Homo sapiens: one gene and its partners. The protein of the gene in region 1 interacts with the protein of each later gene in a biochemical or structural test. Each region holds a gene or a part of one and is shown on either strand. Other genes may lie near its edges. The genes, in order: FCHO1, ITSN1, DAB2 and AGFG1.

Region 1 (7,735 bases):
CTGAATCCACGGGATGAAATGCTGGTAATGAAGGGAAGAGAAGATCCTTAGGGCCTCCCAAGCTTCTGGTCTGTGCTCCTGGGCTGCCCTGACTGAGCCTGGGAGGCTGGTGGAGGGGCAAGAAAATCAGCCGGGTGCCCTGTCCCTAAGCAGAGGGTAGGATGGGGGACTGGCGGGTGTTGTGTAAGTTTATATTTTCTTTTTCTTTGTTTTTGTTTGTTTGTTTGTTTGTTTTTTAAGACGAAGTCTCACTCTTGTCGCCCAGGCTGGAGTGCAGTGATGTGATCTCGGCTCACTGCAACCTCCGCCTCTCGGATTCAAGTGATTCTCCTGCCTCGGCCTCCCAAGTAGCTGAGATTACAGGCGCCTGCCACCATGCCCAGCTAATTTTTGTATTTTTAGTAGAGACAGGGTTTCACCATGTTGGTCAGGCTGGTCTCGAACTCCTAACCTCAAGCGATCGAGTTCGAACTCCAAAAAAGAACTATCATATGGCATATGAGGGGATGACCTCCTCTGCAAGGTGCCGGATCCCGGGGCTGCCCTAGGCCGGCTGCAGACTTGCTGTGTGGCCTCCAAGCAAGATCTTGCCCTCTCTGAGCCTCAGATTTCCCATTTGTAAAATAAAGACCAATAATGTCCAGGTTACAGGCTTGTGGGGGGTCATCAACTGAGCCCTGCCTGTTCGCTCAATAAACGTTGGTCGCTCCTTACTCCTTACCACTGAGTCTCAGGGCGAAAGAGTGGCGCCTGTCTCTTTAAATTATGCAAATAGACTGCGGGTGGCGTAAGGGGGGGAACATAAAAAGGAGCCTAGTCTTCGGCTGGACCAATCAGCGCGCTGAGCTGGCGGAGCTGGGCGCCTAAATGGCCCAATGGGGGGCCGCGCGGGATCAGAGCCCGCCCTGCCTCCTGGCGCCGTCGCGGGGGTGGGGACTTTCTAGGCCACGCCCCGGGGGCGGAGCCCGCCGGCAGCCGCGCCGCAGCCGCGGAGGGAGGGGCGGGGCGGGCTCCGGTGTCAGCGACCAAGCCGCAGGTGGCGGCGAGCGCGGGGCTCGGCCCGAGCTCAGGAGGTGAGTGTTGCCCCCCGGAACCCCCTGGGATACCCTGGCCCGCGCAGCCTCCCACGCGCACCGTGCCCTGCAGCCCCGGCGGCTGCGGAGGGCAAAGGCGCGGCGGGACGCGAGGGATGGAGAGCAGGGGGTTGGGGCTACGCGGTGGGCGCCCCGGCTTCCCCCTCCAAGTGGTAATTGGGGGTCCGCAGGCGAAAATGGGGACCGCTCCCCAAATCCCCCGTCTCCTGGCCTAGAACCGAGCGTGCACGGGGGCGGCGACGACGCGAGACCCCTCCCCAAATTCTTTTATTCTAAGCCTAGGTCTGGGTTCTGGGGCTGCAAAGATGGGGGCGCCGCTCCCCTTCCAGCCTGGAACCCTGGGCGGTGGCTGAGATGGGGACCACCCGCAGATTCCCTCTTCCCAGCTCCGGCCTGCAGACCACCGGGGACCGAGACGAGGGACCCCTTCCCTTTTCCTCCACTGTGAACCCCTATCCAGGCCTGGTGGCTGGAGGAGCTGGGGTGTCACCTGGCCCCTCCTCTAATCTGCCCCATCCCAGTCCTCCACCTTAAGGATGGGGTGGGGGGCGTTTCACTGGCATCTTCTGTGGGGACCCCAAGGTTGGAATTTTGGGGAGGAGGTCACTGTGGGGTCCCCTGCCTGGCACGGTTTATCCAGGCCAGGCCTTGAAGGGCCTGGAGCCTGGACTTGGGGGGGGGGTCCCTCTTTTACTGAGGGGCGGGGTGTACAGCTAGCATCTGTTTCTGGGGATTAAAATAAATCGAGGTAAATTAGGATCTTGCCAGAGGCTGGCTGTGAGTGGGGTGCGGAGGAGGCTTGGGGGGTGGGGGACCCCTCCATCTGCCTTGGATCCCCCGAGTCACCTGCCCCAGCTGCACTGGGGACCAGGAGGCAGTGTCGAATGGACCTGCTTCACTGGTGACCTTGGGCAGGTGACAGCACCTTTCTGAACCTCGGTTTCCTCTTTTGAAAATTGAGGTTGGGAGCTTCGGACCCTGCATTTTACAGATTCTGAACTCACCCAGCCCACATTTTGTCCAATGGTGATTCACTCTTTTGCTTAACATGTGGGTGGTTTGGGGTCAAGACAGCATTGGGTTTGGAGACCCTCCCACAGTGCCTTGCTATCCTCTCAGCCTCAGTTTACTGCACTGCAAAATGGGTTGATGATGACACTCTGATATTGGGGCTGAGGGCATGGGGACAGGGAGTAAAACATAGGACCAAGCTGCAATGGCTGGGATGGGGCATCGCCACCCTGGTCTCACCATTGGGGCCACTTAGGGCACACCCTGACCCACATACCATCACCCACGCCAGGGGTGAACCTGTTCTCGGGCGAGGTCCTGGGCAGGAGGGGGTGGGAGTTGCCAGGCCAGCTCATTCCCTGTCCCTTGGAGCGCCCTCCCAGTGGTGGGCATGGGGCTGGGAGTCTGACACCCCCAGGTTTGAATTTGCCTCTACCTGTGTGTGTGTTTTTCCCTTGGTGCCTTTGTTTGTTCTTCTGTGAAATGGGCTGAATTCCTCTGGGAAGATGGGAGGAGTCTGTGGGAGGAGGAAGCTCTGTAAATACAGACATGATTATTATAATATTAATGACAGTATTAGTGCTCTTTAAATCGGGTCACAGCTGACCAGGAGGAGGGAGGGGAAGGGGGAGTCTATCAAAGGCATTGCCTGAGGAGACTCCAGCACCTGGGAAAGTTGGGTACACAGTAGGCATTCAATAGATGTTTGCCAAATGAAGTGAGGAAGAGGGAGGGGACCCATGGGGAGGACAGAAAATTTCTGAGAATCCCTGGCTCAGATTCCCACTTGGTGGCCCGAGTCACTGTGTGACCTGGGGCACGTGTCTCAGTTTCCCCATCGTGGTGCTGGTTGAGATAAGATACTGCCTTGAGGTGTGGTGACGAGAATCAAGCCAGATTGTCTGTGATCGCAGCCCAGGTGGCGAGGCCAAGAGGGGAGACATGACATAGTGGGTCATTGAAACAGCATGGTACCTGCTTGAACCAAGTGACTGGTCCGTGGGAAGGATGAGAAAACCCTTGCTACTGGCCCTACTGTACATACACTGGGGTCCAAGAGAGAGGGAAATGTGAGATCCTGTTTCCCAGGATCCTGGAAGCCAGATCGTGGAAGGTCAGGAGTGGCCCAAGGTCATCAGGCAAGACGTCAGCGGCTCCGGACACCCAGCCAGGCACCACTCGATTCCCAGGATGGGAGCTCGGGTCTTGCCTTTGTTGCTGATGTGGTTCCTGCTTTGTTTTATCTGTTCTGGGGCTGCTCACATGTCTCAGCCCCAGGTTTGCAAGACTTGGTGCCGGGAAGGCAGGATGGGGACCTCTGAGTCAGCTGGCAATGTGCTGTGTAACCTTGGGCAAGTCTCCGGCCATCTCTGGGCTTTGTGCTGGTACTGTACAGGCTGGGAGACTTGGGTTCTAGCAGGGCTGACTTCTCCATCAGACCCAAAATGCCCAGTGTCTCAGGCTCACAGTGCTTTTAGGGGTCCCTAGGTTGATGTTTTCACTTCTTTTAAAATCCAAAGGGAAAAAAATGAACTCTTGGGTTGAAGGAAACATTTTTGTGTATAATATTAATATATTTGTCTTTATGTCAATGTAGTTGTAAAATACAGTTTTGTTTTGTTTTGTTTTTGAGACAGAGTCTCTCTCTGTCACCCAGGCTGGAGTGCAGTGGCTCGATCTCCGCTCACTGCAACCTCCATCTCCTGGGTTCAAGCGATTCTCCTGCCTCAGCCTCCCGAGTAGCTGGGATTACAGGCATATGCCACCCCACCCAGCTAACTTTTGTATTTTTAGTAGAGACGGGGTTTTACCATGTTGCCCAGGCTGTTCTCGCACTCCTGGGCTCAAGCAATCCACCTGCCTCGGCCTCCCAAAGTGCTGGGATTCCAGGCATCAGCCACCACCTAAAATATAATTTTAAATTTCTTTTGTAGTGAAGGAAAGCGCTCATGAATGCAAAAATGTCTTCCCCTTTCTTTTCTTTTTTTTTTTTTTTTGAGATGGAGTCTCGCTCTGTCGCCAGGCTGGAGTGCAGTGGCGCAATCTCGGCTCACTGCAACCTCTGGCTCACTGCAACCTCCACCTCCCGGGTTCAAGTGATTCTCCTGCCTCAGCCTCCTGAGTAGCTGGGACTACAGGCATGGGCCACCACGCCCAGCTAATTTTTGTATTTTTAGTAGAGACGGGGTTTCACCGTGTTGGCCAGGATAGTGTCAACCTCTTGACCTCGTGATCCACCCACCTTGGCCTCTCAAAGTGCTGGGATTACAGGCGTGAGCCACCGCGCCTGGCCATGTCTTCCCCTTTCTGAGCGCATTTCCCTCTCTGAGCCTCAGTTTGCCCAGTCTGTGAAGTGGGTATCGGCCTACCTCAGGATGGCAAGATGTTGAATGCCTGGGCCAGGGTTGGTGCTCAGTTATTTCCCAATTGCCATGATTAATATTTGTTCGGTAAGAACAGCTCCAGGTTCAGGCCGGGGGGCTCCAGGTTCAAGCGCCTCTTGTTTACTCACCCATGGCCTGTGTGGTTCCAGGGAGGTCCCATGGGTGCTGATCGGGCGGGGGAGGAAAGGTGGCGGTTGGATGGTAGGCGGGGCGGGGTGAGCTTCCTGTCCCCCCCCCAACCCATGCACACAAGCCTCCAACTTGGTGCTGACGGAAGTGGCCTCGTGGCTGTCTCCTGGCGCCTGCCCCGTCAGACAGGGGCCCCATCCCACTCGCTACCCTGTCCGGTGAGTTTGAGCCCTGGCCAGTAGATACCCATCATCTCGCCTTGGCCCCCCTCAGGAACAGAGGGGAGGCCCCCCTGCCCGGAGCCTGGGTTTCAGGAGAAGTAGCAGGTGTCACTTCCTGGGCTGGCCAAAGCCTGCATGGGGCCACCCGTTGCCCTGCCCCCCGTCCCCCATTCCAGCTGTGAGTGGTGGTTTGGGTTAGGGGGGCGGCAAGGGGAGCTTGGAAACCCAGAGAGCCACGCGTGATGGTTTCAAACAGGAGGTCATTGGCAGACAGACCAGGGGCAAAATCACAGTCAGCCGGGACCAATGATTGATCTCTCTGTGCCTCGGTTTCCTTCATAAAGTTGGGGTTGCCTCTGAGGGCATGGCATGAAGATTGGATGAGCAGATGCGTGTGAATAGTTGGGTACAGGGTCGCACACATACTGGTGCTCCATGTGTATCTGTCTGCCAGAGGTGGGGTGAGGCAATCTAATTGAAACTGTGAAAACAGTAGTGAGATTCTTGGTTTCTGGGGAACTTGGGCTCCTTGGTTCCTGGGATCTTCTAGAACAATGTTGGCCATCCAATACAGCAGCCATCAGCCCCATGTAGCTACTGAGCCTTGGAAGAGAGGCTGGCACAGCTGAGGAGCTGGGCATATAATTGTATGTATGTATGTATGTATGTATGTATGTATTTAATTATTATTTTTTTAAGACAGAATCTCACTCTTTCAACCAGGTTGGAGTGCAGTGGGGCAATCTTGGCTCACTACAACCTCCGCCTCCCAGGTTCAAGTGATTCTCCTGCCTCATCCTCCCAAGTAGCTGGGACTACAGGTGTGTGCCACCACGCCCTGCTGATTTTTATATTTTTTGGTAGAGATGGGGTTTCACCATGTTGGCCAGGCAGGTCTCGAACTCCTGACCTCAAGTGATCCACCCACCTCGGCCTCCCAAAGTGCTGGGATTACAGGCGTGAGCCACTGCGCCCAGCCAATTGTATTTAATTTTACTTGGTTTAACATTAATACAAAAATTAATACAAAAATTAAGGCCAGGGGTTGTGGCTCATGGCTGTAATCCCAGCACTTTGGGGGTCCCAGGCAGGAGGATGGCTTGAGCTCAGGAGTTCGAGACTGGCCTGGGCCACACTAGTGAGACCTAGTCTCTACAAAAAAAAAAAAAAAAATTTATTTTTAATTAGTTAGACATGTAGTCCCAGCTACTCGGGTGGCTGAGATGGGAGGATCACTTGAGCCTGGGAAGTCGAGGCTGCCATGAGCTGTGATCATGCCACTGCACACTCCAGCCTGGGTGACAGAGCAAGAACCTGTCTCCAGAAAAAATAAAAAAATAAAAAAAACTTAATACAAAAATTATTCAGGCGTGAGCCTGTAGTCTCAGCTACTCGGGAGGCTACTATTCAAGGCTCCCTTGAGCCTGGGAGGTGGAGGCTGCAGTGAGCTATGATCGCACCACTGCACTCCAGCCTGGGCAACAGAGCGAGACCCTGTCTCCAAAAAAAAAAAAAATTAAGTCACCACATGGGGCTAGTGGTTCCCATGCCAGTCAGCACAGCTCTAAGAGATTTGGAGATGCTTAGGGTCCTGGTCATGGACAGAAGCTAAGAAATGATATGGAAATTTAGGGCTTTTCCCCTAGGGATGTCAGTGTAGCATGCTCACCACCCTACCCCTGCCACCAAACTAGGTTTCCTAAGGGGGTGTGGTGGGGACTGAAGTTTTTCAGGGGCCCTGTCATTAACCAGTGCAGGGTTGGGAATGTTTGTTGAAACAAATAATTCCTTGCCCAGTGAACTCCTATTCATGCTTTAAAACCCCAACTCCCATGAGCCCTCCTTTAGTCCAGGTTCTTTTGGACCTTGTCCCTCCATCTGGCCCAGCCCTGACCATGCAGGACGGTGATATCTGTGTCCAGCTCTGTCTCTCTAGACTGGGGACTCCTGCAGGGCCAGGCCCGAGGCTGAATCAACTCAGGGACCCTGACATTGTTCTAGTCTGGGTGAGCAAGTAGGAGGTCTTGGGTGACTCACAGAAGTCCCGGGATTGGAGGCTCAATGATAATGGGTCCAATTAAACTAACTAACTTTCTTTCTTTTTGAGACAGGGTCTTACTCTGTCGCCCAGGCTGGAGTGCAGTGGCGCCATCTCAGCTCACTGCAACCTCCGCCTCCCAGGTTCAAGCGATTCTCCTGTCTCAGCCTCCCAAGTAGCTGGGATTACAGGTGCCCGCCACCACACCTGGCTAATTTTTGTATTTTTAATAGAGACAGGGTTTCACCACTTTGGCCAGGCTGGTCTCAAACTCCTGACCTCAAGTGATCTGCCCGCCTCGGTCCCCCAAAGTGCTGGGATTACAGGCGTGAGCCACCACTTCTAGCCTAAACTAACTTTCAAGATTAGGTAAACTGAGGCACAGAGAGGGGCAGCCTTGCCCAAGGTCTTGCTCAGTCCTTTCCTGGGGAGGCCCCGGGAGCTTCCCCATCCTGTGGTCACGGGTCCCTGTCACTCCTGCCACTGTTCCTACGAGGCTCCCAGCTGCTACCGAGCTGCCTGTGGGGTCATGAATTATGCATGAGGCCTGCAGGCTCCAGTGACAAGCCTGGCCTCTAGAACATGCCAAGGACACTGCCTGTCCGTCCCCTGCCGGGCGGCCTGACCCAGCCTCTTGTGCAGAGACACCTGGGGCTCCCCGGCAAGATCCCTTCTAAGCATTCCTTCTTATTTTGCAGATGGGGAAACTGAGGCACGGAGCTGGACAGTGACTCAGACACCAGGTGAACACTGGCTTTTGAGGGCAGGGTTGGGACTCGTGGGGGCAGCAATGCCAGCTGGGTCATCACAGTGAGGAGTGAGCTCTGACTCCCAGGAGGGTACATAAGGTGAGGACTG
Region 2 (7,025 bases), on another chromosome or scaffold:
AAAAAAGGATAGAACTGAGTAATCATTCTAAATTTATAATTGATGTGTTAAAGAAGGAAACTGAATAATGGGTTAGAAAAAATTGTTGACTGACTGTGATCTCCATAGGGATCAGGGCACAGCTTGTTCTTCAGTGTGAAAAGCCGAATGCTCACCTTTCACTCTGCTTTGAGAAATCTTGTTAGAATAGAGGACTCATCAGCACGGTTACAAGGCAAAGGGAAGGAGGGAGAGAGACAGAGACTCATGGTCCAGAAGAGAGGGGGTTAATTCCTAGGGCAAGCTCATGGGAAGAAGGGAAAGGATGGAGTAACAGGGAAGGAAAGGAGTCTGGATGGTGATGTAGAACTGCTAGATAAGGATCTTTTAGAAACAGTGTTTGGCGTGGAGGAGAAGATATAAACAGAGAGGTTAGGCAAAGGGGGTTTTCGTTGTGCTCATTAACAAGGACACAGAAGCTTAGGGAGTTCTGGGTTTGGGTTTGTACTACAAATTTCAAATACATTGGTGAGTTTTCCTTTGAAAAGAGTCCGTTGAAAATCTTGAGTTTTCATAGTTGCTGTGTTCCTTGTCTGAAGTAACGTTTGAAGATAAGAAGCGGGAGAACTTTGAACGTGGCAACCTGGAACTGGAGAAACGAAGGCAAGCTCTCCTGGAACAGCAGCGCAAGGAGCAGGAGCGCCTGGCCCAGCTGGAGCGGGCGGAGCAGGAGAGGAAGGAGCGTGAGCGCCAGGAGCAAGAGCGCAAAAGACAACTGGAACTGGAGAAGCAACTGGAAAAGCAGCGGGAGCTAGAACGGCAGAGAGAGGAGGAGAGGAGGAAAGAAATTGAGAGGCGAGAGGTAAGCAGGCGAGAGTGGAGCCACCCGGAGTTAGTGTGCGATCACCCCTTTTCAGAATTATCCAAGTGATCTATTCACGCCATCTTTGTCTTTTTACAATTCAGTAGTTTTAGTATATTCCCAAAGTTGTGCAACCATCGTCCCTAATTCCAGAACATTTTCATCACTCCAGCTCTTTACCCATTAAGCAGCTACTCCCCATTTCTTTCTCCCTCCAGCTCCTATCATTAATTTTACTTTCTATCTTTCTAGATTTACTTATTCAGGACATTTTTTATAAATGGAATCATCAATATATGGACTTTTGTTTCTGGCTTTCATTTAGCATAATGTTTTCAAGGTTCATCCACATTGTAAAATGAATCAGTCCTTTATTCCTGTTTATGGCTGAGTAATATTTCGTTATATGGGTATACCACATTTTTTAATTCATTCAGCAGTTGATGGTCATTGTGGCTATTATAAACAATGATGTTATGAACATTAATGTACAAGTTTTTGATGATACAATTTTGTAACAAACCACTGATACCAGTAAAGTGTTTTTCCAGACTGTTTTCTCTGTATACACCTATATAAAAATATAAAGGTTTATATGGCGGAGAGTGTAAGGGCTGTATAATTTTTTAAAAACCACTGTAATAGTATCATACCAATTACATTGTTCTGCAATCTTCTTTTTTTTTTTTTTTTTTGTTTGAGACAGAGTCTCGCTCTGTCACTTCCAGGCTGGAATGCAGTGGCATGATCTCAGCTCACTGCAACCTCTGCCTCCTGGGTTCAAGCGATTCTCCTGCCTCAGTCTCCTGAGTAGCTGGGATTACAGGTGCCCGCCACCACGCCCAGCTAATATTTTGTATTTTTAGTAGAGATGAGGTTTCACCATGTTGGTCAGGCTGATCTCGAGCTCCTGACCTCGGGTGATCCACCCGCCTCAGCCTCCCAAAGTGCTGGGATTACAGGCATGAGCCACCGCGCCTGGCCCATGCAACCTTCTTTTTAAACTCTTTTAAAAATATGTCTGGGACATCCTCCCTATATTCTATGGAAGGCTTCGTAAATTTAGCGCCATACCTGGAAAGGGGCTAAGCAAATCTTGTCTCTCTTTCCAATTTTAGTACATTACTGCAGAAGCAACACATGGTTCTTTCATGTGAATGAAAGATAAAAATGAGGAATTTTTCGATGTAAAAAAATAGCCTGAGTGCTGTGCCTCAAGCCTGTAATCCCAGCACTTTGGGAGGCTAAGGAGGGATGATCACTTGAGGCCAGTAGTTGGAGGCCACTGCATTCCAGCCTAGGTGACAGAGCAAGAACCTGTCTCAAAAAAAGAAAGAAACAAAACTTATAGCCATAACTCCTTTTTTTTTTTTTGAGACAGACTCTCGCTCTGTTGCCCAGGCTGGAGTGCAGTGGCACGATCTCAGTTCACTGCAGCCTTCACCTCCTGGGTTCAAGTGATTCACCTGCCTCAGCCTCCGGAGTAGCTGGGATTACAGGCGTGAGCCACCATGCCTGGCTGATTTTTGTATTTTTAGTAGAGACAGGGTTTCGCCATGTTGCCCAGGCTGGTCTCGAACTCCTGACCTCAGGTGATCCGCCTGCCTCGGCCTACCAAAGTGCTAGGATTACAAGCGTGAGCCACTGCGCCCGGCCCCGTAACTCCTTTTTGTTCAGACAGACACTAACAAAATTTTAATTTTCAGAATGAACAAAGATAGGCAAACTTTTCTTCAACGTACCAAAAAAATGATATTCTAGAGTATTTATTCAGAATTATTTAATAGACATTTACCATGTATCAGGTGTAGTTGGATGACCCATGAGTCAGAGGCAATTCCCATAGACTGTCAGATGCTCTGATATGTACTCTATCTAGCAGTCGTCAGAGCCAGTCGTTGGAGGGAGCAAAAGCTTTTGTGGTAAAAAGGAAATGAATGATTAGGAAGTGGGGAGTCGCAGACTTTTAAAACGAGTTAAGTAATAATTTCTCTTTTGGTGGAGTAAAATCAACTCTTGTTTGTTTTTGTTCAGGGGTGTTTTAGTTTGATTTTACTACATAAATTTTCCTTCTTGGCGTGTCAGTAAATAAGAAGGAGCATTTTTAGTTAGCACATCAAGCATTCTTGAAGGCATAAAGAATGGAATTCTAATGGGGAAATAATCCTGTCATCTTACGTAAATATAGTATTATGTAAATATAATACCCAGTTCTGTGTATTCCCTTTATTCCCATAGAAGGAATACTGTATTTTTATGTAATTTTTTGTTTTCTAATGTGATTTCTTGTAATGTTTAATATTTCATCCCTAAAAGGAAAGACTTCCTAGATGCCATTTTTGTGAAAAGACATTGTGTAGTGTAAGAACTGAAAAATTAGTAATTTGTCTCTGTAAATGTCACAGGCTGCAAAACGGGAACTTGAAAGGCAACGACAACTTGAGTGGGAACGGAATCGAAGGCAAGAACTACTAAATCAAAGAAACAAAGAACAAGAGGACATAGTTGTACTGAAAGCAAAGAAAAAGACTTTGGAATTTGAATTAGAAGCTCTAGTGAGTGAAGTTTGGTTATACTTTGAAAATATACTAAGATGGAACCATTAAAAACAGTAATAATTTTTATTATCTTTCATTTGTTCAAGAATGATAAAAAGCATCAACTAGAAGGGAAACTTCAAGATATCAGATGTCGATTGACCACCCAAAGGCAAGAAATTGAGAGCACAAACAAATCTAGAGAGTTGAGAATTGCCGAAATCACCCATCTACAGCAACAATTACAGGTGAGGAAATATGCCTCTTAAAAGCTATTATATTAAACTGGCATCCTTTTCTCTAATTCATTTCATTTACTTACTTATTCAGTAAACATTAAGCAACTGTCTTGTACTAGGCACTGGGAAGCAAAAATGAAGTAGACAGGGTCCTTGTGTGAAAAGTAGCCTGTCAAGGAGACAAACTCAGCAAATATTTACTGAGCACTGCTTCGGGCCAGGTGCTTTTGCAGTTTCTGAGGCTACAGCAGGGACAGACACTCTGTCTTCTGGGAGCTTACCCTCTGTTTGCAGGAGGAACAGAGACTAACAAAATAAAGTGTGTACTGTATTAGAAGATGAAAAGTGCTATGGAGAGTGAGTAGGGAAGGGAATAGAGAGTCCTAGGGATAGGAAATGTTGTGATTTTAACTAAGGTAGCCAAGACAGGTCTTTCTGGATGGTGACATTTGAGCAGAGACTTGAAATTAATGACAGGCTAAGCCATGTGGGTATCTGGCAGAGCAAGATCTAGGCAGGGAAATAGTGCCAAAGTCCTGAGGTCGTAGCAGGACTCTGAGATGCCAGTTACAGCAAGGAGACTACTGGGTAGAGCAGGTGGGAGCTGGATCACACAGAACCTGTAGTCCACCAACAGGACTTTGGCTTTACTGTGGTAATTACAATAAATAAGTACACTTAAGTATTTTAGGGGGTCATATGAGAGCTATATGTATACTAAATAGTTGGAGACATACAGAGCACTTTTAGTAGTTCTGTCTTCATTTTAAAGCCTATCCAAAGTTGTTATAATATCACCTGGTTTGGTATCAAGTGCTGAACTACAGGGGCATCAAATTCATGTAAATATTGCCTGTGGATGATCATATTTGCCTGTGATTCCTTTATGTTAGGCTTTTTCTCAGCATGATGTTTTTGAGATGTGTCCATGTTACTGAGTGAATGACTCTTTTGTTTCTTTTCATCACTGAGTAGTGTTTCCTTATGTGTCCATTCACCTACTGGTTGATATTCAGGTTCTTTCCAGTGTGGAACTTTTATGAATAAAACTGCAGTGAGCATTTATGTACAAGTCTTTATGTGGAAATGGTTTATTTCTCTTGGGTAAACTTTTAGGAATGGAACTACTGTGTCATGTAAGTGTATATTTAACCCCATAAGAAACTGTCAGGCTGGGCACAGTGGGTCACACCTGTAAACCCAATACTTTGAGAGGGCAAGGTAAGAGGATTGCTTGAGCTCAGGAGTTTGAGACCAGCCTGGGAAACATAGCAAGACCCCATCTCTAAAAAAAAAAAAAAAAAACTTAAAAATTAGCTGGCATGGGGGCGTTCACCTGTAGTACCTGCCTGAGGCAGGAAGACCACTTGAGCCCACGATATCGAGGCTGCAGTGAGCTATGATTGAGCCACTGACTGCCTGGGCCACAGAATGAGACCCTGTTCAAAAAAAAAAAAAAAAAGAGAGAGAAAAGAGAAAGGAAAGAAAGAGAACTGACAAACTGCAAAGAGTTTGTACCATTTTACATTCTGATCATTTAATTTGTATTTCCCTGAAGGCTAATGATGTTGGGAATCATCTTACATGTTTATTGGCGAGTATTTTTTACTGTGCATCTTCGTTGAAGTGTCTGAACAAATCTTTTGCCCATTTTTTATTGGGCTGTTTGTCTTACTATTTACTTGTAAAAGTTCTTTTTATATTCTTAACAAGTCCTTTGTCAGATACGTGTTTTGCAAATATTTTCTCCCAATCTGGCTTGGGTTTAATTTTTGTTAGTGGTATTTTTTAAAGGGCAGAAGTTTTAAATTTTGATGAAGTTCAGTTTACCGTTTTTTTTCTTTTGGTGTTCATGCTTTTTATGTTCTATCTGAGAAATCTTTGACTACCCCATGACTGCAAATATTTTATTTTCTTCTAGAAGTTTTTGGGGCTTAAAAAAATAATTTTTACAAGTTTTTATAAATTGAAAAAAACTTAAAATTTTAAGTTTCATAGTTGTATCTTATATGTTTAGGTCTATGAGCTATTTCAAGTTGATTTTTGCAGATAGTATAAGGTAAAGGTTGAGGTTTATATTTTTACATACTGATACACAGTTGTTATAGCACCATTTATTAAAAACACTGGCTTTTTTCCCATTGAGTTACCTTGGTAGCTTGTTGAAAATCAGTTGAACATATTTGTAATGGTCTATTCTGGACTCTATTCTGTTCTTTTGATCTGTCTGTCCTTTACCAGTACCTCACCCTGTTGATACCTAATTTTTGAAGTCAAGTGATACGAATTCTCTGTTATTGTTCTTTTTAGAATTGTTTTTGGTTATTCCAGGTCCTTAACATTTCCATGTACATTTTAGAATCAGCTTATCAGTTTTTACAAAAATGCTTGGAATTTTGTTGGAATTCCATTGAATTTATAAATCAATTTGGGAAGATTTGACATCTCAGCAATAGTAAATCTATGGCATAAATCTCTATTTTGGTAGTTATAAATTTCTCTCAGCAATGTTTTGTAGTTTGCAGTGTCCAAGTCTTGTAGATACTTTGTAAAGTTTATCCCTAAGTATTTTGTGGCTTTTGATGCTATTGTATATTGCATATTTTTATTTTAGTTTCCAGTTGTTTGGTGCCAGTATATGGAAATAGAATTTATTTTTGTATATTGACCTTATATCTGTGATTGCTTAACTAACTTCCTTTGTGTGTCTTACTTTGTTGACCAGAACCTCCCATACTATATTGGATAGAAGTGGGAAGAGCCTTGTTCCCTCTCGATGAAGGAAAGCTCTCTCACCATAGAGTATAGTGTTAACCAGGGTTCTTGTAAACACCTTTTATCAGGTTGATGGACTTCTCCTTTTGCTGAGGGTTTTTATGATGAATGGGTGTTGAAATAGATCATATGTTTTTTCCCCGCATCTATTGAGATAAGTATGTGTTTTTTCTTTCTTATTTTGTTAATATGATGAAGTACATGGTTGCCATTTGAATGTTAAATCAGCCTTCCATTCTTGGGATAAACCACTCTTGGTCATGGTATATTACCCTTTATTAAAATATTTCACTACATTCCATTTCCCATTATTTTATTAAGGATCTTTTTAAATCTGTTGAATTCAATTCAACAGAGATATTGGTTTTTAGTGTTCTTCTAATATTCTTGTCTAGTTTTGATATCAGGGTAATGCTGGCCTCAGAAAATGAGTTGGAAAATATTCCTTCCTCCTCTATTTTCTAAAAGTGTTTGTGTTGAAATAGCATTTCTTCTTTAAATTTTGGTGGCATTCACCAGTGAAGGCCTCTGGGCCTGGAGCTTTCTTGAAGACTTAATTATAAAATTCATTATGCAGATATAGGGCTATTCTGATTTTCTTCTTCTCCTTGAATCTGTTTTGATTATCTGTCA
Region 3 (7,025 bases), on another chromosome or scaffold:
TCTTGTTCAGTTAATAATGCAGTCGTTAATTATTATATGGTTATCATTCAGTTATTTATTTACCATTTGATTTTACTGAACTCATTGGGAATGGGACTACACAGACCTTGTAAAAGGAGCAAAAGACATTATAAAGATGGGATAATTATCTTAATAATTTTCAAGAGAACTTAGGCATAATTCCTTTCTGCCTTATTGATAATTTAAAATGTTGGTAAATTGCTTGGCAGCTTATTTTTCTTACATTAAAAATACATATATTATCATCCTTATATTCCTTTAAAGACTTAAAAAAAACTATGATGAAAAATGTCCCCAACTCCCACCTCCCATATTCCCATACGTTTCCCATAACGCTGTCAATTTTGTACTTCTAACAGTTTATTTTCTCCCCACCTCAACTCCATACACAGTTGATTGTGGAACATGATTTTGCTCAAAGGAAGTAAGAATAAGACAGGACAGAATATTACATACATGATCAGTTGTAGTATAATCAGGATTTATATTACTTAAATTTTGGAGAGTCTAGAGCATATTTGGTCATAATTAGAACTAGCATTCTTCATCCTGTATTCCTTTCTTTTCTCAGGCCCTGAAAAGACAGATGAATATCTCTTAGCAAGGTTCAAAGGCGATGGTGTAAAATATAAGGCCAAGCTGATTGGCATTGATGATGTGCCAGATGCAAGAGGGGATAAAATGAGCCAAGACTCTATGATGAAACTAAAGGTAAAAGGGAAATGAATGCTTTATCTGTATATTAAGCAAAAGTCCAAGAGAGGGAATTATATTAGAAGCTCTTGTTGACCTATTGTTCAATTACTTGAAAACTGCTTTTAATCACATTATCCATCAGTAGTGCCCCATTTTCTGAGAAACCGTGAGTGTTTGCATATTTGGAGGGATGTCCTAGATACCTAATTTTATCAAGTATAATAGGACTCTAGATGCCTTTTCCTTCTGGCAAGCTCAACATTAGGACGAACCAAGCGTATTCCTATTTCTATTCCTATAAAAGCTGTGTGCAAATATTTGCATTGCTTGTCTTACTATATGTGGAGAGCACGGAATATCCTGTTTTAGACCTGGGAATTGTTCTGATAAAATTGAGGATTCTACTTAGACATTGGTGTTCCTTAGCGCTAGCCTTTCTGTTTTTTGAATTTAAAAATTTAGTACTATGGCACTATGTGAAACTGACTGAATAAATAATACTTGTTCAATAGTTCAAGGCCTAGAAGAAACATCTCTAAAGATCTTCTAGTTGAGCTTTACCAGTGACTATTCTGAGGCCAAGAGAATTAGAGTGACTTGTCCGAGTTCGCACAGCTAACTAAGGGATGCCCTGGTTCAACGTCTTCTATGCCGTCTTGCTGTCCCGGATGAAAAGTGCCGAATCCTCTCATCGATGGCAGATCAAGTCGAAAACAAAGCTGACTGACTTTGAAAATTTTAATATTAAAACCATTGTAGGATGTTTTTAAAAATTCAACTTCTCTTGTTTTTCCACCCTCATCAGGGAATGGCGGCAGCTGGTCGGTCTCAGGGACAACACAAACAAAGGATCTGGGTCAACATTTCCCTTTCTGGGATAAAAATAATTGATGAGAAAACTGGGGTAAGAATTCACATTTGCTGATACCTCTCTGACCACCTGAGTCTGACCAACAATTTGCTACTTGAATTTCGGCTCCCCTTCTTCGTTCTCAAAGTTCTGTGGGGAACAAATATATCATATATTACATCTCCAGAAGTAACAGGCAGAAAACAGAATAGGAGGTAAAAGTCAAGATACTTGATTTTGAATTTGTGTTCTATAATAAATGTGAATCTAAGTCTGTTAAGTCTGTTAATAGGCTTAGATTCACATTATGTCTATAATATATAAATATATATATTTTTGAAATTAAATAAATATATATAATTTATATAATATACAAATATACATTAAAATATAAATACATATATAATTTATAAAGTAAAACTTCTATATATATATATTTTTTTTTTTTTTTTTGACCTCGGGTATACAGAACTAGATTAATTTTAACCCCTAGTTTGTGACACTTTTATGTATTGCTTACATGTGAACTTACCGGCTAACCTAAAGCTAGAACCTCACCCATAACACATCTACCTCTTTTTCATTTCTTTTTTCCCTGCCTTCTCACCTCACAGATGTAACCTTGTTTTTGTTGGTTCCTGTTGTTCTATTACTTGTGAACAGTCTTACTTATTTTGCCTTGTTTTTAAGCCTTATCAGAAAGCTATTTATCATACATCAAGTCTTCTGTGATTTTTTTTCTGTACTCAATGTAACATCATAAGACTCATGTTTTTTAAAATGTTGTGTGTGGCTCATTTTCATTGCTATAAAATACTCTCTCGCATCACGATACTGTGAGGAGACCTCCAGTTACTATTCATCCCTTTCTAGAGTGCCCATTATCTACCATGCAAACCTAGGGCCCTGGCACCCTAGTGGACCCCACTCAGCCTGCTAGTGCTGGGGTCCTCAGGCACCACTCTCTTTATCAGTCGCCTTTATCTGTCAACTCTTATTTTCCCAAGCCCATCAGAGAAAGGTGGCATGTTTCTCTCACCCTTCTGTGTCTCCTCAAACTTTCTAAGATACTCTAAGATATCTTAGACATTCAGGACAAAAAGCCAAGACACACTCTGCCACCTACAAATATCCCTAAAGAGTTCAACCTTGTTAACTGCTTGAAAGGATCAAGAAAAAGGAGGGAAAAATAGAAGAAAAGACACTAAGCCAATACAGTCCCCACCCCTTATAATTCCTGGTTACTGATGTAGTCATTATGTCATTAACATACTGTAGTTATTACTACATTATGTTACTATGTATTAGGCTGTCTAGGTGAGGCTGAGAAACACTTGATGACAGTATTTGGTATCCTCCAGAATATACTGGGAATACGGTTCCAATAACACATAGGATGGTTCCTCGGCCACTCTGAGCCATCGTCAATGAATCCCTGTGAACACTCCTCTAGCTTAGTTATGCTGTTCTTTTAAGTTTGTCTTTGAGTTGGGAAAGTAGACCTATTTGGCTTGGCTTAAGGGCTAAATGTCTCCTCTTCACTTGGTCTTCTAATCCTCAGTCCTTCCTGGCTATGTGGCATCATGTCTTTAAAGCAGGGAGAGTAAAGTATCAATATTTTAAGAAGGAACATTCTTCCCACTTACGTTTTCTATTCTTCTTTCTTTTGAGCCCTTTCTAGAAAGAGTAATGCTCTAGCCTTCAACCAGAAATGAAAAGTCTATCTTCAAATGGTTTAAACTTTTCATATATGCCTTCATATATGTGTCTGAGGCTTCGGTGTGCTAGCCTGCAAATAGATTCTAGTTTTCTTAATAAATTACTCTTTATGTTCTTTTTTAAGGTAATAGAGCATGAACATCCAGTAAATAAGATTTCTTTCATTGCCCGTGATGTGACAGACAACCGGGCATTTGGTTACGTGTGTGGAGGAGAAGGCCAGCATCAGTTTTTTGCCATAAAAACCGGGCAACAGGTGAGCTCTAAGTCTTGACATAGACCTGGGGACTTGTCCTCTGTGGACATTGGAGTGTCTGTCACTCAACTAAAAGATTTACTGGAAATAATTGGATGTAAGAGGGCTAAATAATAATTCCGAGAATGACTATTTTTATTGGCCTATGGAATCTTTTAAAAATGTCATTGATAGCTATGCACTGCTGTGTGCCACAGGATTGTGAGAATGGACCTTCTTATAAAGTGAATACTGACTTCACAACAGTGGTGAATTATTCTCAGGAACCTTAAAGGACTTCAAATATGATCATGATACCTCTTGTTTTGTCTAAATACTTATTAACCCTGCTGTCTTTTATATACCTAAGGGTGAGGATTGGGTTGGTGGTGATCCCCTATAAGCCAGCAGAGGGTAGTAAGGCGTTTTAAGATTAAAAAAAAAATCCCAGTATGAATTATAATTGATAGCAGACAAAGGAAATAAAATACTAAAATTAAAATACGGATAACAGTGCTTTCCCTTACTGCAGGCTGAACCATTAGTTGTTGATCTTAAAGACCTTTTTCAAGTTATCTATAATGTAAAGAAAAAGGAAGAAGAAAAGAAAAAGGCAAGTACTACCTGATTAAGGCTCTATTAAATTTAAAACTGGCTGGGCATGGTGGCTCACACCTATAATCCCAGCACTTCGGGAGGCAGAGGTGGGTGGATCACCTGAGGTCAGGAGTTCGAGACCAGCCTGGCCAACATGGCGAAACCTCATCACTACTAAAACTACAAAAATTAGCCAGGGGTGGTGGTGGGCACCTGTAATCCCAGCTACTTGGGCGTCTGAAGCAAGGAGAATCACTTGAACCCGGGAGGCAGAGGTTGCAGTCAGCCGAGATGGTGCCACTGCACTCCAGCCTGGGCGACAGAACGAGACTCTGTCTCAAACAAACAAACTTAAAACTGTACTCAGGACTATGTTTAATATTATATATAAATATGGTCTATCTGAAAATTTGGCTTCTATATGTATTGTCTATTCTTCCCAATAGGGCAATGGATACATTTTTATGGTTAGGCACTTCTAATCTGCACTCCCTGGCTTTTATTTTTTTTCTCTCTATGAGATTCATATTAATTCTAGGAAATATACAGGACAACCAAGTTTAAATCCAGTAACTCTACTCAAACCTTATATTGATATGAAAAGGGGAGGGGAACGGAGGGCAGAAATAATATACAAGACTTATTCTTGCCTTATGCCTGTGAACCATAGGCATACTTGTTTGTGTATTTAACTCCCTTTCACTATGAATATGAAGATCACTGAATATGTATCTTTCTTTTTAGATAGAGGAAGCCAGCAAAGCAGTTGAGGTAAAATTGCATCTTTACTTCTTGTTAATCATGTGTGTGACATGCGTAAGCCCCTGTTTTCTACCTGCCCAACCACTCTCGCCACCTCGCTTATTACTATGTGTTTATGACTTCTCTGATCATGAAAGATGTTTAGTTAAAAGATGATACCAAAACCATTGCTGCTTAGCAGACTAATAGAGTGGACAAATACATTTTATAGACAAAGCTCAACTAAATCCTTAAATATTTGCTATCTTTTCAGAATGGGAGTGAGGCCCTAATGATTCTAGATGACCAAACTAACAAACTGAAATCGGTATGTATTAATATGTGACGTTTGACAGTTCTTACTTATCTGAACATGGGTTCTACTTCCTGTAGATGTTGCTGATACCAAATCTGTATTGAATCTATATGAAAATCCAATTGAGACAACTGTTTTTCAAAATATTAGTGTAACATCTATGTCAATATACAAAAGTAGTCAAAAAAAGATTAGAAAAGTAATCTTTTTAGTAGCCACACCTGAATCTAATCTAATACTTTTTAAGGATGTGGACAAGATAGATTTGCTTTGAGACATGTCTACACTTCCTGACCTAAACAGCTTAATATGAAATCTATTAGTTAAATGGAAATTAAATTGTGACAGCTACTTTCCTAAACTTTAGGAAACAAATGATTACAATATACGAAGTAATCTTTTTTAGTAGACACATCTGAATCTAATCCAAATACTTTTTTAAGGGTGTTGACCAGATGGATTTGTTTGGGGACATGTCTACACCTCCTGACCTAAATAGTCCAACAGTAAGTGTTTGTTTTTAAATTTGCAATGTAATAAAATGACATCTATAACTCAAATTGGCAATAACCAGAAATCTTAAGCATCTCATTGAAACTTGGAAGGTGACTGTTGATTTTTGCAAATGAAGTGTCAATGGTTTTTAGAATAAATGTGAATCTTAAGTCACCATGGGAACCTATCCACACTAATTCAGTTATATTAATATTGCTTACAGATTAAACCTGAACAATAAGTCAGCAATGTAGTCCTTCTTGGTATCACTTAGGATTAGAAGGAGGAGGTGAATAATAGTCCTTGAATAAGCCTACTTGAAGAAAGTATGACTGTTAGATGGTTAATCATAAAGCCTCCTGGCCTCTTCATTTCTTTTGCATTCTGTCTGTTGCAATTTAGCAGCATAAATTTGGTGTGAAGTAAGATTTAAAACAAACAAGTGGCTCAGTTATATTCCACCAAAGCTTGTCCTTGTTAGAAAGCTGCCCATTCTCATAGGATTTTATACCATATCCAGTCTGCTCAATATTGAATGATCTGTAACAACCCTGTAAGAACAGAACAGTATTTTCCTTTATAAATTAAAAAAAAATGGTGGTTCAGGGAAAAAAAAGAAGAAAAAAAAATAAAAAGGAAAGAGGTCCAGATTCAAGACTTAGGCCCAAGTCTTCAGACCTTCCAAAACATACCTCTAATGAAAATGTCCATGACATTTTGAATGACTTCTTGCAACTTCTTTTATTTATGTAACAGTTTCCTGAGCACCTGCTATTTGCAAGGCATAGCAGTAAGATGCACAACATCAATGACATCATGGAATTTACTCTCCGGCAGGGAGACCAACATTAAAACTAATCACATCGTTAGTAATTGATGTTACTACAGGGTATTTATCTAGTTCAGATTCAGGTAATGCTTCTGCAGGAGTGAGTTTCTAGATTTGAACATAAAAGATGAGAAGGCAATAAACAGACAAAAAGAGAATTAGTCTAGAATAATGGGGGGAAATGTCTAGAAAGGACTCTCTTGTATCAGGAAATTATCATGGAAGCCTATGTGACCAAGGTTACAGGAGTTGAAGCAATGGATCAAAGATTGGATAAAATTCTCCCTTCAGACTTCTGCAGAGAATTTGAGGCCTGTGAATCCTTACTGCATAAAACTTTCAGGTCAAATGAGATGGAGAGGAGCAGGGACTTCATGCATTCTTCTCTGACCCTAACCATATGAGTATCACAATGCATGGTAGCATTCTAAAATGCCTTTAAGAGAGAAGCCTGTTTAATATTCATTTTAGCAGTGAGCCCTAACTCACTTGCCTATAGAACCTTTCATTCTTCATAATTTTTGTT
Region 4 (7,025 bases), on another chromosome or scaffold:
TAAAAATATGAAGGGTTTATTGATTGATTTTAAAGTAAAACTATACAGTGGCTTAATAATATTGCCTAGATTTTCCTCATTCGAGCATGGTTGTCCCCAGCTCCTGGGTATACTGCCTTAATTATGTCGTTGGTCCAATACTTTCAGAAGTTCTGCATTTCCCTCTGATTGGGTTAGCTTAGATCATGCCACAACTGGACACATGTTCTAACCTGACTTCATTGTCACAAGGATCCCCAAATAGAGTTCCCAAATCTGAAATCTAGAATTCTTGGGATGTAGGGAATGAAGACTAGAGTGGCAACCATCAAATGTCTACTGCAGAACGTTGGAGGGACAATAGCTTCTGAAGATTTTTTTCTTTGACAAGCAATAGTGCAGGAAAATAATTTAGGAAGAATAATATAACTCTTGGGTTTAATAATTATGTATCTGATGTTTAGATGACATGGTATAATTGAAAGAATATGAATTTTGAAGTCAGATTTTGACAATGCTACTAGCTTCGTGGCTTAGGGCAAGGTGTTATGCTAGGCCACTACATGCAGATTGGCCCAGATCCATCCTTGTAGCCTCAGTTTCTTTATTTATGTTAAGAAGATATCATATAGCTCAGGGTTGTTAAGAGGATTCAATGATACACATCGTTACTGTATTTACTTATTGAGCACATACCGTATTTGAGGATAGGGCTAAGCACTGGAGTTACAAATATTGAAATAAGGCATGCTAGCTGCCGTTCCTTGATTTACCTGGAAAATATGAATACATAGCAAATAGTATCCACTATCATGAATTCTAAATTTTAGGATAGTGACATACCTTCTATCATTTATACTAATACCTTTTTTTAAAATAAATTGAACTAGCATCTTGTTGTTAATGTTACTAGACTTGGAGCTAATCTTTCTTGTTTCTTTTTTTTCAGATGACTGTCCTATATGCTTGAATGATGTTCATTCAGAGTGTAACTGAATTTAGATTGTAAAACTTTAAAATGAACTTCAGAGTTAGATGCAGTTAAACTATTTGTTACTGAGGCAGAATGATGAAGGCATCCTAACTGATTGGTTTGTCACTATCTTTCACTGTCTTTCTGGTTGTATTTATGGAAATCCCTAAAATTCTGAATGGACACTTCAGACATTTAAAATATAGCCAACAGTAAAAATGGCCTTCATGTTAAATAACTTCTAGTTGATTTAAAGACTAGTTTTAGACTAAATTATTTGTTTTATGGAGACTATAAACATTAGTATAATTGATATGTAATATAAAAGATTGTCCTAGCCTTAAAAAGTGATCCATAAATTTTTCAGTGAGGGTTTAGATAAAATAAAAAATAACATTTGAGAAAGAGGTTGCCACTTTAATACCATCTATTTTATGTGGACAGTGCATTTAAGCTTGAAATTTCACAGGTAATAAATGTAGCTGGATAGTAACTTATATTCTGTTGATTCTGTGTACATTGACTCTTGAGATGAATGTTACAAGAATTTTAATTTTTTTTAGATGACAGATGAAAAGAGGTATTTAATGTTTTTATACAATTAGTAGCATTAGGATGGATTGCAAATCAGATGCTCTTTTGGAGCTCTGTGTATAATATTCAGGACCTTGTGAGGTCACAGTGAGCAGGGATTTATATTCTTAATTCCTTTTTTACTTTTTTTGGATACTCTGATATGGCCACATTCAGTTAAGTATTTAGAGTAAGTGGCCAAAATATTTTATACTTTCTCTCTCTCTCTTTTTTTTTTTTTTTTGAGACATAGTCTCACTCCGTCACCCAGGCTGGAGTGCAGTGGTACGATCACGGCTCACTGCAACCTCTGTCTCCCGGGTTCAAGCCATTCTCCTGCCTCAGCCTCCCAAGTAGCTGGGATTACAGGCGCCCGCCACCATGCCCGGCTAGTTTTTGTATTTATAGTAGAGACTGGGTTTCGCCATGTTGGCCAGGCTCGTCTTAAACTCCTGACCTCAGGTGATCCACCGCCTTGGCCTCTCAAAGTGCTGGAATTACAGGCATGAGCCACCTCGCCTGGCCTAGATACTTTTTCAATTGTGAAGGACAAATTTTTTATTTTAAGCAAATATTTATTAAGTGCCAGATACTAGCCCATGTGCTGGAGATACAACAGTTAAAGTATTTATTGAAAAAAAAGAAAAAACTATTGAGTGCTAGCTGTGTGACAGACATTCTAGTAACAGTGATGTGAGGAAGGTACTATTATCCAAGCTCAACTTTAAGTTGTAAAATTAGTGCACACTCTTAGTGTTTTGCTGTTATAACCTGCTAGAAGTTGGGATCTGGAACTGATGCTGATTCCACCACCAAAGAATGTATGGTTACCATGGTTACCGTAAATTGTTGTGAATTCTATATTTTGGGGATTTAAATGGTAGATTTTACTTCATTGTGTTTCAAATGGCAGAAAAAAGACTTTTTCTTTTTTTTGTTTTTATTTTTTGAGACGGAGTTTCACTCGTCACCCAGGCTGGAGTGCAGTGGTGCGATCTCACCTCACTGCAACCTCCACCTCCCAGGTTCAAGCGACTCTCCTGCCTCAGCCTCCCAAGCAGCTGGGATTACAGGCATGCACCACCATGCCTGGCTAAATTTTTTTTGTATTTTTAGTAGAGATGGGGTTTCACCATGTTGGCCAGGCTGGTCTTGAACTTCTGACCTCAGGTGATCCACCTACCTCGGCCTCCCAAAGTGCTTGGATTACAAGCATGAGCCACCATGCCCAGCCCAGAATAGATATTTTATGATGCATCATAAATGTTTGTTTTATGGCTGTGTCATGCTTTTTATTATTTTTAGGGAACTTCTTAGCTCCAAAATGTGTGTTCTTATTTTTGAGTTTCATTGAGAAAATACTGTTGTGTATTCTGAAATCAATGGGAATGATGGTGCCGTTCCAACAGCGATTCTTTTCAATTTGGCATGTGCATACTACCATGTGCCGTAATTCTCGTGCTATTTTTTATATTTGAATTCTAATTAGAACCCCTCATTGTATGCAGTCAAGTTTGATAGTGGATAAGTTTATCAAAAAATTCAGTTAAAGCAAGCAATCAGTAAAAAAAAAAAAATACATACATGCACACATACATATACATGTATCTATTATATATACATATATAATATATATATTTAGCAAGCATAGGTTTTTTTGTTTGTTTGGGTTTTGTTGTTGGTTTGAGACAGGGTCTCACTCTGTCGCCCAGGCTGGAGTGCAGTGGCATTATCATGGTTCACTGCAGCCTTGACCTCCCCAGGCTTAGGTGATCCTCCGACCTCAGCTTCCCAGGTACCTGGGACTACAGGCGCGTGCCACCATGCCCAGCTAATTTTTGTAGAGATGGGGTTTCGCCATGTTGCCCAGGCTGATCTCCAACTCCTGGCTCAAGCAATCCTCCTACCTTGGTCTTCCAAATTGTGGGGATTACAGGCGTGAATTACCATGCCCTGCCTCAAGCTTAGGTTTTTAAATTTTAACATACAACTGTTAATTTGCTGGCACATAAGGCTTTGAATATGGGTCCACTGATTAGATTCTTTGTCCCCTAATATAACCCAGACTCATGCTGTACTATTTATGATTTTTAGCATTTTAATGTACTTATAAAACAGTTTGAATGCTGAATTCTTCTAGATTTTTATGATTTTTCTCTCAGTCTTTTACAGTTCTTTTCCATGGTCAAATAACAGCTTATCCTAGTGACTTGTTTTAGTCTCTAAAAATACTTAGTTTACATGGAAATAATTCTTCTCACTCATGCCATTGTTTTACATGACATTCACTTAAACTATATACTTACCAAGTACTGTACCAACTATATTACCAAATACTATACCAGACAAATTTTGATAAGCATAAAACTCACTCTCTCCTGAGAGAGGAGCAGGAGAAAGTGGCCTTCTAGCCATGAATGTTCATTGTGCAGTAGGCATTAACTTTAGGTTTCTCAGAGGGAAGGAGAAACATAGATTTAACCAGCAAATTGGATAAGAAGGACTCTTCTGTATAGTGCTGTGGGTACCTTTTATACTGGGAAAACTCCAGCATTCAGGTTGTGGTGACATCATTTGACCATAACTGAGTATAAAGGCATTATTGCCATGTTAAGCCTTTTTCTGTTCCCTATTCATTCATCCATCATTTTTGGCATGTGATTTTTAAACACTGGCTTTTAGTTTCAAAGTGGATAAAATACAGTTTAGATTAAATTTACATTAAATTTTATAATATTAGTGCATTATAAATGAAAAGAATTAAGACATTGTTTTAAAAGAACTTGCCGACCTCTGGATCTCAATTTGAAAATCATTGTCTTTTTAGAAACCTCTGTATCTGTTCCAATAGCATTCTTTGGAAAACAGGCAAATCTCCTTATTTGATATTTTCCTTCTTTTCTGTGCAGCGTGCATGATGTTCACATTTGTGAGAAACTCCTATGGAAATATTCGGGACTAGGTTTTACTACTCCCCCTCATTTTTTCCCCCACTTGAATGTGTTTTCTAATTCAAATCAAAGTGATGATTGTCTAGGGAAATACAACTTGGATACCTTTAATGTATGTAAAAACGTTTTAAAATCAGTTATAACTTTGAGTACTTACATTAATAGCATGTTCCTTGTGACATTTTTTACAACCTTACACACGAGAACTATTGCTAAAGACACCTGATTGAACATTAGAATGAAATTCATGAGCTATTCAGTGGGGACAGGAAACTTATTTGAGTTGTTTGAAATACAGAGAATTAATTTTTGTTTGTGTTAGAACATACTTTGCTCAAAGACTTCTGACTAAGATAGCAATCTTTTTGATTGACACCATACATGTTTTGTAGAGGTCATAATTATACCTTACTTTTATTCTGGTTGCTTGTTTTAAGAGGAATGTTAACAAACTGGAGCATGCTCCAAGGAATCTGATCAAGATGGTAAGGAAGTTTGAAACTATGTATTAGAGGAACATTTGCAGGAACCAAAAATGCTACTAGCTTAAAGAAGAAAAGATTAGACAGTGGGGGAGCTGTACACATGATCACTGTCATTGGGTAATTTAAGGCATTGGGAGAGGTAATACATTTATTTTTACGACTCTAGGGGGAGATGCAACACCAGTGTTTGTAAGTTATGGAGAAACAGTGTATGTTCAGAAAAGGAAAGAGGAATTTTCCTTGTAATTGTCAGATTCCAAAAATTCTTGTCTTTCCATATTTCTTATTTTATTTTATTTTATTTTTGAGATGGAGTCTCACTCCATCTCCCAGGCTGGAGTGCAGTGGCGCCAACTCAGCTCACTACAACTTTCATCTGTCAGGTTCAGGTGATTCTCCTGCCTCAGCCTCCCTGGTAGCTGGGATTACAGGCATGAGCTGCAATGAACTTCCTTCAATATGATCAGATGCATCAGCTACTTTTTTTTTTTTTTTAACTGTTTCTGGGTACTTTTATAATCTTCTGCTCTGGAAATGCTGCTGTCTAGGCCTGCTGTGCGGCTCTCATACCAGAACTTTTCTTCTATCTTCATTCTGGAAATTCCCTTCACTTGTAACCTATGTTAGATGCTCTGTTTCCAGGACCCCCAACATTTCCGTTAGCCTCCTGATGAAAGGTGAATGAGAGGTCATTTTTGAAAGCCACAAAGCTGAAAATGTTTTATTCTGCCTTCTTTTTAAAAATTAGTTTGCCTACATTCACAAAGGTGAAAATACTTTACCCTTGGAACTTTCAATATATTGCTTAGTTGTCTTCAAACCTTCAGTGTTGCTGTTGAGAAGTCTGATGCTATTCTTATTACTGAGTCTTTCTGACCCACTTCTTTTCTTCCCTCTTTTGGAGTATGTAAGATCTTCTTTTCTTCCTGCTGTTCAGAACCTCATATTGAAGTATTTTGGTGTAGGTCTTTTGTTCAGTGTTTTAGGCTTTTTTTTTTTTTTTTTTTTTTTTGAATTTGTTTGGAAACTCACGCTTTTTATAGTGCAGACATATTTTCTCCAATCTTCTTTTTTGGGGAATATAAAAGCCTGTGATGCCACTGTTCTGGGAACCAAGTTGAGGGAGGTGACTGTCATTCTGTGTGTTTGATCTTAGATAATCCTCCAGCTTTCCACATGGTCCCTAACAAGAGTCTTCAGCAGTGTCTTGAGTTTGAAGTCTCTGTGGTATAACCTCTTTAAAACTTTCCTTCAGACTTCCCACCTAGGGCTGGTGGGAGTATGCTTTTGGCTGTTAAGGAACTGGAGAGTCTAATGATTTCTGACCCCACTTTAAGCCCTCACCTGTATCCAGTTCCTTCAGTAAATCTTGATATGTCCTGTGGTGGGAATCAGTTTCCAGTTGGCTTCTCCCACCTTTGCAGAAGCTTCTGTTTTGGCTTTCTCCATAAAGTCACTTACTGCTGGTATTTTGTTTTTAAATCTTCCAAATTTTGTTATTCAAGAACTGTCGTGTGCTTTTGGACTCTTCTCTTGTTCTCTGACGCTCTGTTTATTTTAATTTTTGTGGGCACATAGTAGGTGTATGTATTTATGAGGTACACAAGATAGGAGTTTTGATACAGGCATGCAGTATGAGATAAACACATCATGGTAACCCTCTGTCTCTTGTGGGTTAATACCTTCTTATTCCTTTACTGTCATTTCGTTGTGGGTTTGGGCATGTGAAGAGATTTAGATTTTGTCCACTACTTTTTTTTTTTTTTTTTTTTTTGAGACAGAGTCTCGCTGTTGCCCAGGTTGGAGTGCAGGGGCGCGATCTCTGCTCACTGCAAGCTCTGCCTCCCGGGTTCACGCCATTTTCCTGCCTCAGCCTCCCACGTAGCTGGGACTACAGGCGCCCGCCACCTTGCCCCGCTAATTTTTTGTATTTTTAGTAAAGACGGGGTTTCACCATGTCAGCCAGGATGGTCTCGATCTCCTGACCTCGTGATCTGCCCGCTTCGGCCTCCCAAAGTGCTGAGATTACAGGCGTGAGCCACCGCACCCAGCCTTGTCCACTAC

What was found.
Region 2: the proteins of FCHO1 (region 1) and ITSN1 form a complex in vitro, tested with the Homo sapiens proteins (one study listed by BioGRID).
Region 3: the proteins of FCHO1 (region 1) and DAB2 form a complex in vitro, tested with the Homo sapiens proteins (one study listed by BioGRID).
Region 4: the proteins of FCHO1 (region 1) and AGFG1 form a complex in vitro, tested with the Homo sapiens proteins (one study listed by BioGRID).

The regions. Positions count from the first base shown.
Region 1 is NC_000019.10:17,746,742-17,754,476, forward strand, and holds the start of FCHO1 (F-BAR domain only protein 1), read left to right. Parts: upstream 1-4,735; 5' UTR 4,736-4,836; intron 4,837-7,467; exon of another isoform or gene 7,468-7,575; 5' UTR 7,576-7,620; exon of another isoform or gene 7,621-7,725; intron 7,726-7,735. UniProt on the Homo sapiens protein: Functions in an early step of clathrin-mediated endocytosis. Has both a membrane binding/bending activity and the ability to recruit proteins essential to the formation of functional clathrin-coated pits.
Region 2 is NC_000021.9:33,771,483-33,778,507, forward strand, and holds part of ITSN1 (intersectin-1), read left to right. Parts: intron 1-578; coding exon 579-841; intron 842-3,246; coding exon 3,247-3,396; intron 3,397-3,485; coding exon 3,486-3,626; intron 3,627-7,025. UniProt on the Homo sapiens protein: Adapter protein that provides a link between the endocytic membrane traffic and the actin assembly machinery. Acts as a guanine nucleotide exchange factor (GEF) for CDC42, and thereby stimulates actin nucleation mediated by WASL and the ARP2/3 complex.
Region 3 is NC_000005.10:39,386,961-39,393,985, reverse strand, and holds part of DAB2 (disabled homolog 2), read left to right. Parts: intron 1-592; coding exon 593-732; intron 733-1,522; coding exon 1,523-1,621; intron 1,622-3,410; coding exon 3,411-3,542; intron 3,543-4,053; coding exon 4,054-4,134; intron 4,135-4,862; coding exon 4,863-4,889; intron 4,890-5,133; coding exon 5,134-5,187; intron 5,188-5,618; coding exon 5,619-5,681; intron 5,682-7,025. UniProt on the Homo sapiens protein: Adapter protein that functions as a clathrin-associated sorting protein (CLASP) required for clathrin-mediated endocytosis of selected cargo proteins.
Region 4 is NC_000002.12:227,475,151-227,482,175, forward strand, and holds part of AGFG1 (arf-GAP domain and FG repeat-containing protein 1), read left to right. Parts: intron 1-7,025. UniProt on the Homo sapiens protein: Required for vesicle docking or fusion during acrosome biogenesis. May play a role in RNA trafficking or localization.